Linked DNA regions of Homo sapiens: all the other regions are linked to region 1. The links come from fine-mapping of genetic effects on gene expression. A gene starts in region 1. Each other region holds a variant in brackets. All regions are shown on one strand. Distances are from middle to middle.

Region 1 (2,756 bases):
ACTGGATCCCTGGTTACACGGCCCTACGCGGTGGCCCTGCGGTAAACGGCCTCTCAGCCCAAACCCACCCTGGTTACTGAGCATGCCCAGAACTCCCTCCCGGGCCACCAAAGGAGGGGCACCATTTCTGCAGGATTTTGCCACTGTGGAAAGAGAGGCGGAGCTGTCATCGCGCAGAGGCAGGGACTGATACGCGGAAAGGACGTGGAGATGGGAATAAGCAATGAAGGACCAGCATTGACCGTGTTAGGCACACAAATCTAATTGCCCCCTGGTTACTTACCAACCCGGTGGCCGTGGCTCAGCTACTGCACACACACACCAAGTTCCTACACACCTTTCCCCTGCTTGGCCCCACACAATTCATGGCACTCACAGCCCACATCCTACCTCCTACTCCGCACCAGATGCGCACCCGCACTTACTCCCCAAACACGTGGCATCTGGTAACCCGGGAAACGCTGCGACTGTGGCGCAGTGCGCAACAGGGGCGGGGGAACCAGGCGGGGCTCTGGGGCGCAGGGGAAAGCTGGAGATTTGGGAAGGGGGTTTCAGTTTGTTTTTTCTCTCTTTTTTTTTTTTTTTTTTTTTTTTTGGTGGAGGAAGCAGAATAAACCAAATCGCGACACGTTCCTGCGCCCTTCTTGGCGCAGTGGCGCAGACACGGTCCATGGCGCCTTGCGCAATAGAGTCGGTCTGCACCCCGTCTTTAAGTCGTGGCCCTGGGCTGGAATTCCCGACTGCACTCTTTGCTACACCCCCATAGACCGCAGACCTGCGTCTCTCTCTATATTCCTCTCCCATCTGCTACGCCCCTCTGAATTTCTTCCCGCCATGTTGTGTGCCCCCCCCCCACTCCCCCGTCACCCCAACCACACCAAAGTGGATGCACGAAGCGGGAACCTTCTCGTTTCAGTCTCTGCTCCCTGCAGCCTGCCAAGGCGAGTGGACAAACTGAAGCTGGGGTGTCCAGCGTCTTGGCTGCCCCCCTCCTGTCCACCCTGCCTGTGCTATCCTTGCTCATCTTCAGTGCCATCCCGCTTCCCACACCCTGAGTAGCCTGGCGCCCGGCTTGTCCCCTTTTCCCATCCATCAGCTCACACCCAGGGTAACGGGGCGGGACCCCTATCCACAGTGCGCCCTCGCCCCCGGCCCACCTCCGCCATGCGGCGGGGCAGAGGCGCCTGGGCCAGGCAGGTGGAGGAGAGGGGCACTGGGGCTGGGGGCTGCGTCCTCCGGTCCTCACTCCGCGTGCCCTGCCCGATACTTACCCAGGCGCGGAGAGCGGTCAGCGGGCCCTCCGCTCCGCATCCATTAGCTGGTGGTCTGGCCGCTTCACTTCCGGAGCGCGGGGCTAGGGGCGGTGCCGCCCTCCCCTCTCTCTCTCCTTCCCTCCCCTCCAGCCCTCCCCTGAGCACCGCTCCCCTCCCCGGCGCCGCGCCCCGCCCGCGCCTCCCTCCTCCCAGCGCTGCCGGGAACTGGCAGCCTTTCGGCTCCCGCAGCCGCAGCGGACGCCCTCCCAGATCCAACTTTGCCGCTTCCCCGAGCTCGCGCTGTAGCCGCGGGGGGCGTGGGCAGGGAGGGGAGAAGCGGGGTCAGGGGGAGGGACCGGGAGGGTGGGTCGCCGGCTCGCCAGCCCTCCTTCCTTTCTGTGCACCTTGCGGTGGGCGGCGAACGGCAGCCGCGGCAGCAGCTAGGGGGCTTGTGCACACAGCGAGGGAGACTTAGGGACTGGCAGACGGACGGACGGACGGCGAGGACCCTACCCGAGCCCCCGAGCCATGGCCGAGAGAAAGCAATCCGGGAAGGCGGCAGAGGACGAAGAGGTCCCTGCTTTTTTTAAAAACCTGGGCTCCGGCAGCCCCAAGCCCCGGCAGAAATTCTGTGGCATGTTCTGCCCGGTGGAAGGGTCCTCGGAGAACAAGACCATCGACTTCGACTCGCTGTCGGTGGGCCGGGGCTCGGGGCAGGTGGTGGCTCAGCAGCGGGACGTCGCCCACTTGGGCCCGGACCCGCAGCCGCCGTACTCGCGGCAGGGCCGGCGCGCCGGCGGAGAGCCATCTGTTGAATCGGGCCGGAAGGTGGAGATCCGGAGGGCCTCGGGCAAAGAAGCCCTGCAGAACATCAACGACCAGGTCGGTGTGGGGGTTGGGGGTGGAGACGGAGGACGGGGCGCGGGGATCGCCCCTCCCTCGCCCCTGAGCCCGGCGCGCCCGCCTTCATGCCCCGCCCTGGACCTCGCCTCCCGCATCTGCACGCGCACCCCGCCCTACCCGCCCCTTCTCCGCGCAGGGTGCGGCGAGGCTCGGGCTGGGCGGTGGGCGGCCGTGCGCCCACAAAGGCTGCCCGCGTCTCCTTGAGCTTGAGAGGTGGGGCGTGGGCATAGGGAATGGGCTGATCCCCTGCTGGGGCGGGCGGTGGTCGTCTGGGAGGGGGTTGGCCGCGGTTCCATTCTTCTGAAACCCTCCCGGGCGGCTTCCGATTGCAGCTGCGGCTGGGTGCCCCACCCTTTTTTTGAGCGGCTCAGAGCGTGCGGTGGAGGCTTTGCGTGAAGGCCCGCGGCTCCCCGGTGGTCGGGAGGGGCGGGGGTTCGGACGGCCGCTCCCTACAGCCTCCGCCCGCGCCTTCTGCGCTCACGTCCCGAGCTCCGAGGCCAGGACCATGGTCAGCGCCCCCCGGACCCCCTCCGAGCACCGCACCGCCCTTGACTCCTGCTCGCAGCGTGAGAAGAGCCAGGAAGGCTGTGGAGTCACCCG
Region 2 (2,756 bases), 74 kb before region 1:
CTCAAGTGCCCGTCAAAGGATGAACGGATAAACAATGGCGGCTGAATGTACAAGGGAATATTATCTAGCTTTAAAAAGAAATGAAATTTGGACACATGCTACACACAACACGGGTGAAGCTTGAGGACATTATGCTAAGTGAAATAAACCAGACACAAAAAGAAAGTACTGTGTGATTCCACTTATATGAGGTACATAGAGGAGTCAAGTTCATAGAGACAGAAAGTAGATGGAGTTGCCAGAGGCTGGGGAAGGGGAGGAGGGAATGATTGCTTAATGGGCATAGCATTATGGTTTTGCAAGATGAAACCATTCCGGAGGTGGATGGTGGTGATGATTGCACAACAATTTGTGTGCATTTAATTGGCACTGGACTGTACACTTACAAATGGTTAAGATGGCAAATGTAATGTAGATTTTACCACAATAAAAAGGGAGGGGGATGATAATAGTATCTGTTTATTGTGAGGATTAACTGAGCTGATACGTGTAGAGTATGGGGCAGTGTCCAGAAGCAGCAGGTGCTCAGTGAATGTCAGTTATGATTGTTCTCTAAACACATTCACCTTAGTAAGATGCACACTCATTTTATTTCTATGTTTATTTTTTTTGAGACAGGGTCTTACTCTGTTGCTCAGGCTGAAATACAGTCGTGTGATCACCGCTCACCATAGCCTTGACCTCCTGGGCCCAAGTGATCTCCCACCTCAGCCTCCCGAGCAGCTGGGACTATAGGCATGTGCCACTATGCCCCACCAATTTTGTTGTATTTTTTGTAGAGGCGGGATTTTGCCATGTTCCCAAGCTGGTCTTGGACTCCTGGTCTTAAGTGATCCTCCTGCCTCGGCCTCCCAGAGTGGTGGGATTATAGGGGTGAGCCACCATGCTTGGCTCATTTTATAAACAATTGTCCCTAAGAGTCCACCATCTGGGCTTGTCCCCACATGATCCCTCATGTGACCCTCCAGTAGCCACCATAGTTGCTTCTGAGGTGTCTCTCATTCTCCCCTGAAAATGGGCAGAATCAGTTAACTTTCACTTAAGAGTTTTTAACCTTAGTTATAAATTAATCCGTTTTGTCGACAAAACTTGAGCCAAGACTCAGCTGACAATAGTCAGAA[G/C]TGCCTCAAGTACTTAGGTATTATATGGTCTGAGGACGGTTGGGTAATCCAGGTCTCCCATCAGGGAGCAAACTCCAGCCAGCCCTGAGAGGCAGGAGGTGCTTGGGCTGAGCTTGGGGCTGGGTGCCAGTGCCAGGCACCCTGGGTCTGGGCAGCACCCTCTTCCTGGCTTTCTGATCTGGTGACGACCCCAGTGCTGTTATCTTTTTTTTTTTTTTTTTTTTGAGATAGCGTCTCACTCTATAGCCCAGGCTGGAGTGCAATGGCAAGATCTCAGCTCATTGCAACCTCCACCTCCCAGCTCAACCGATCCTCCCTACCTCAGTCTCCTGAGTAGCTGGGACTACAGTTGTGTGTGATTGTGCCCAGCTAATTTTCGTATTTTTTTGTAGAGACAGAGTTTTGCCATATTGCCCAGGCTGGTTTCGAACTCCTGGACTCAAGTGATCCACCCGCCTCTGCCTCCCAAAGTGCTGGGATTACATACAGGTGTGAGCCACTGCACCCAGCCAGGCAGCTTTTTATTAGACTTTCACTAGGTCCTTGTAGGTGGAACCTTAGTGGTCACAGTGGGCCAGGAGGGTTTGGCTAGTTTTGGCCTTTGTAGCCATCTTTGAATTACACTATTAGTAGATCAGTCTGGTCTCTAAAAGGAAAAAGACCACAGTCATTATTGGAGTTTGACTATTCCGTTTAAAATGTAGCTTTTAAGTGAGGTACATCATAAAGGATCTACTGGCTGGGCACGGTGGCTCACGCCTGTAAGCCCAGCACTTTGGGAGGCCGAGACGGGCAGATCACTTGAGGCCAGGAGTTTGAGACCAGCCTGGGCAACATGGTGAAACCCCATCTCTACTAAAAATACAAAAATTAGCTGGGCATGGTGGTACGTGCCTGTAATCCCAGCTACTCAGGAGGCTGAGGCAGGACAATCACTTGAACCCGGGAGGCGGAGGTTTCAGTGAGCCAAGATCACTCCATTGCATTCCAGCCTGAGTGACAGAGCAAGACTCTGTTTAAAAAAGACAACGAAAACCGAAAAACAAAGAACAGGTGGAGTCTACTGACTTGCATGAGTCAGGTAATTCATTGACCGGGGCTGGTCAAAAAGATGGGTTGATCCTTACTGTGGAAGCTCTCAGCTGCCCTGCAATACTTTGGAAATAAACCAGGCAAAACACTGCTCAGTGTGCTGCACTCCAGACACAAACAGGAAGCTGCTCTTTCTCTGCTTCCCTCCCCCACAATCAGACTCTTGTAACTCTCTTTTCTTCTTTTTCTAAAATGAATCTGGGAGTTTCCTTTAGCCCCTGTTTTGTGGTCGCCTCCCATACACGTTTTATCTGTCCGTGGCATTTTCTTTTATTTATTGAAAGCACCGTGTCTTAGATCAAGTCTTGAGAAACAGAACCTGAGACAAACATGAATGTGGTTAATTGAACGAGCGCTGTGCAGGAAAAGCTGTACTGGAGAGAGGTAAGCGGACAGATACGGGGAAGAGCTGGGCCCAGCAAAGATGAGGTCTCAAGTAAAGCTTATGTTTGGCTTAATCCACCGGGGACGGTTCTGGAACATAAGCCACACCGCAGAGCTGTGATGTCACACCTTGAGGCGAGGGCCTTGCCTCCTGGTATC
Region 3 (2,756 bases), 48 kb before region 1:
TTTCTCTCTCCATGGCCTCCCCTTTCCTGCTCCAAGTCTGGCTGCTTCTTTCCTTTCATGGCCCTCATTTCCTGGGCCGTCACCTCTAGGCAGGAGTCCCTCCCTCCCGTGTGACCATTGTCAAGGCCTTGACCGTCTTCTGCCTCTGGAGTTTCCTGCCCCACCTCACCAATGTGGCCAGAGAGATCTCCCAAAGTGCAGCTCTGACCTCATGCCCCTAATTCAAAAATAACTGATGGGCTGGGCACGGTGGCTGACACCTGTAATCCCAGCAATTTGAGAGGCCAGGGCAGGTGGATCACCAGAGGTCAGGAGTTCGAGACCAGCCTGGCCAACATAGTGAAACCCCCATCTCTACTAAAAATACAAAAAATTAGCTTGGCATCGTGGTGCGTGCCTGTAATCCCAGCTACTTGGGAGGCTGAGACAGGAGAATTGCTTGAACCCAGGAGATGGAGGTTGCAGTGAGTCGAGATTGCGCCACTGCAGTCTAGCCTGGGTGACAGAGTGAGACTCCGTCTTTAATAAAAAGAAAAAAATGACTGATGGATGAACCAACTGCACATAACCTCCTCTCTGGCTTTCCAGGGCCTCCCACCCCCTGGTCCCTCTGACTATTAAGAGGGACCCTCTTGGCCCCTGCATTTCTTCCCTCCAGCCGCAGTCAGCCCCCTGCCTCTCCTGAGCGTGTGCTGAGCATCTGCCTCCCTGCCTGTGCACACTGTGCTCCTCTGGCTGGATCATCAATTCTCTCTCCTCCCTGCTCTGCTGAAATCCTTTCTATGCTTTAAAATGCAGCTCAAATGCCCCACTGTGCTATTTCTATGCTAAATCCACACTCCTCTCACTGTACACACCACGTCGGCTCAGAAGTGTTTGTTTGCATTCCTTCCTTGGCTTCCTCACTAGACTGAATTCCTGAGAGTGGAGAGGATGTGTCTTGTTTCCACTCCCAGCACTGTCCGGTCCAACCAGCGAGAAGTGATTGCTGGTTTTGGGAGACTCCTTGCTCTCCTTCCTTCTTCGCCCGGGTCTTGGGTGCTGACCTTATGAAAGGGCAGCCTGGGGTTTTTCTTGGCATCACCAGCACATAGCTGGGTTATGCACACAGCACGTTGCCCAGTTCCTGGCTTGGAGGGAGTGTGCTCATGTTTGATGGTTACAACAATGGATGGGAACCCATAGCCAGTGGCTTCGATGCCTCTGTCCTGATGGGAAGCTGAGAAGGAATTGACGGTACCCTTCTTTCTTTTGGGTCACTACCGTCCTGCAGCTTCAGCGTTTCTTTGTGCTGGAGCAAGTGCAGTTGCCAAGACCGCAGAGGAAGGGGGTGGAGGAATGGCCTCAGCCATCTCAGAGGACGGCACTTGTTGCCCCCAGTGCCACTGGCCAAAGACCTTTTCAATTACACCAGA[C/G]GCATTGGCTCTAGGCAGCCTCAGCTTCCTGTCACCACGGACTCTGTTTAATGTCTCAGCTGGACTTGGCTGCATCAGAGATTGCAGGGAATATGGCTGGTCCACTTGGGTGGATTTGCACATGGCCATCCTGTACATGTGCCCTTCTGCCAGCCTGGCAGCCTCTCCCTTCGTCTGCCTTTTCCTTGGAAGTGCATCAGCAGGGGGAGCTGGATCTATCCTCAACCTAATGGAAAGCAGACGTCCCCGCACGCAGAGGAGCAGGCTGCCTTGCAGGGTTTTTCTGGAATAGCTCAGATGGTTGTTATTTTATTCATTGGAATGGAGATGAATTGCTAAATGTACCAGTTAAATGTGATTTAAATTGTATATCTTTGTCAAGTTTTTCACATAAATTCACTCATTAAAAAAAAATTCTTTGCACAGACATTTGCCTTTATTTTTGTGTTCCATGAGCTGGGGAGACAAAATGTTCTAGCTGGGAAGACCATTTTCTGTTTCTAAACTACATGAAGGTTTGCCTTTAAGACATTAGACATAAGACACTAGAAGGCTAAAGTCAGCCTGTTTGTGGGCAGCCTTAAAGCATCCCCAGAGGTCCTTGTTAAAGAACTAGTAGGTCCTCATATAACCATTTATTTTATTTTATTTTTATAATTTATTTTTTAAAGGCAGGGTCTTTCTCTGTTGCCCAGGCTGGAGTGCAGTGGTGTGATTGTAGCTGACTGCAGCCTTGAGCTCCTGGGCCCAAGGTATCCTCCTGTCTTAGCCTCCATAGTACCTGGGACCACAGGTGTGTGCCACCATGTCTGGCTAACTCCCATATAACCATTTCTTCCCTTCCAATTTGCCAGCACTTTGACTATCCTTGTTTCATGATCCTCAGTTCCCATGTTGAACTGAAACTTTTGTATTCCTCACGTTGTTTTATTTTCTGTATTTGCTGATGATTTGGCATCTGCGGCCTTGCTGATCTTGGAGAGACCACCTTTCCCGGGGCCAGCTAATTCCTGGAGATGGTAACCACTTGCCTGCAAGTGTGCCTTCCATATTGGAAACCAGCCAATCCAAGGTCCACACCCCCACCTGTCTCTATGACAGAGGATGAAACTCCGGGCCTCTGCCCTAACTACCCTAGGGCCAGGTATGAGGAAACTAGGGGCAGCTCCTATGCTGCAGAGCCCACTGGCAGTCCTCAGCCTGCTCGCCCTGCCTTGCCTGGCCGTTACCATGGAAACCACAATAAAGGCTCTTGCTGGTGTTTCCAGCCTCTCTCCCTCCCCCTCCTGACCCACCCTGGTGCCTCCCCATGTGACCCTGCGTGGTGTGCCGTACTTCCTC

Alleles and levels. Alleles are on the strand shown, and positions count from the first base shown. SD is a standard deviation of normalised expression in the study named. Not every link is listed here.
As copies of C replace G in region 3, the expression in cerebellum of the gene that starts at base 1,328 in region 1 goes down (large effect, 1.2 SD a copy in GTEx).

What was found. PIP is the estimated chance that this variant, and not a neighbour inherited with it, causes the effect.
Region 2: its variant is fine-mapped to the expression of PNMA2 in lung (TOPMed, PIP above 0.99).
Region 3: its variant is fine-mapped to the expression of PNMA2 in cerebellum (GTEx, PIP above 0.99). The same link has a PIP of 0.9 or more in cerebellar hemisphere.

What each region holds. Positions count from the first base shown.
Region 1 is chr8:26,512,545-26,515,300 of GRCh38, forward strand. It overlaps PNMA2 (PNMA family member 2), which reads right to left and starts at 1,328. Exons shown (of 3, transcript NM_007257.6): 1 at 1,272-1,328. DPYSL2 (dihydropyrimidinase like 2) reads left to right here and starts at 1,487. Exons shown (of 14, transcript NM_001197293.3): 1 at 1,487-2,135. The coding sequence starts at 1,782. RefSeq lists an enhancer at 1-442.
Region 2 is chr8:26,438,108-26,440,863 of GRCh38, forward strand. No RefSeq gene overlaps it. Among named protein-coding and RNA genes, the nearest start is that of BNIP3L, 56 kb to the left of the region's middle. The variant G/C (reference allele first, on the strand shown) is at 1,122.
Region 3 is chr8:26,464,836-26,467,591 of GRCh38, forward strand. No RefSeq gene overlaps it. Among named protein-coding and RNA genes, the nearest start is that of PNMA2, 48 kb to the right of the region's middle. The variant C/G (reference allele first, on the strand shown) is at 1,416.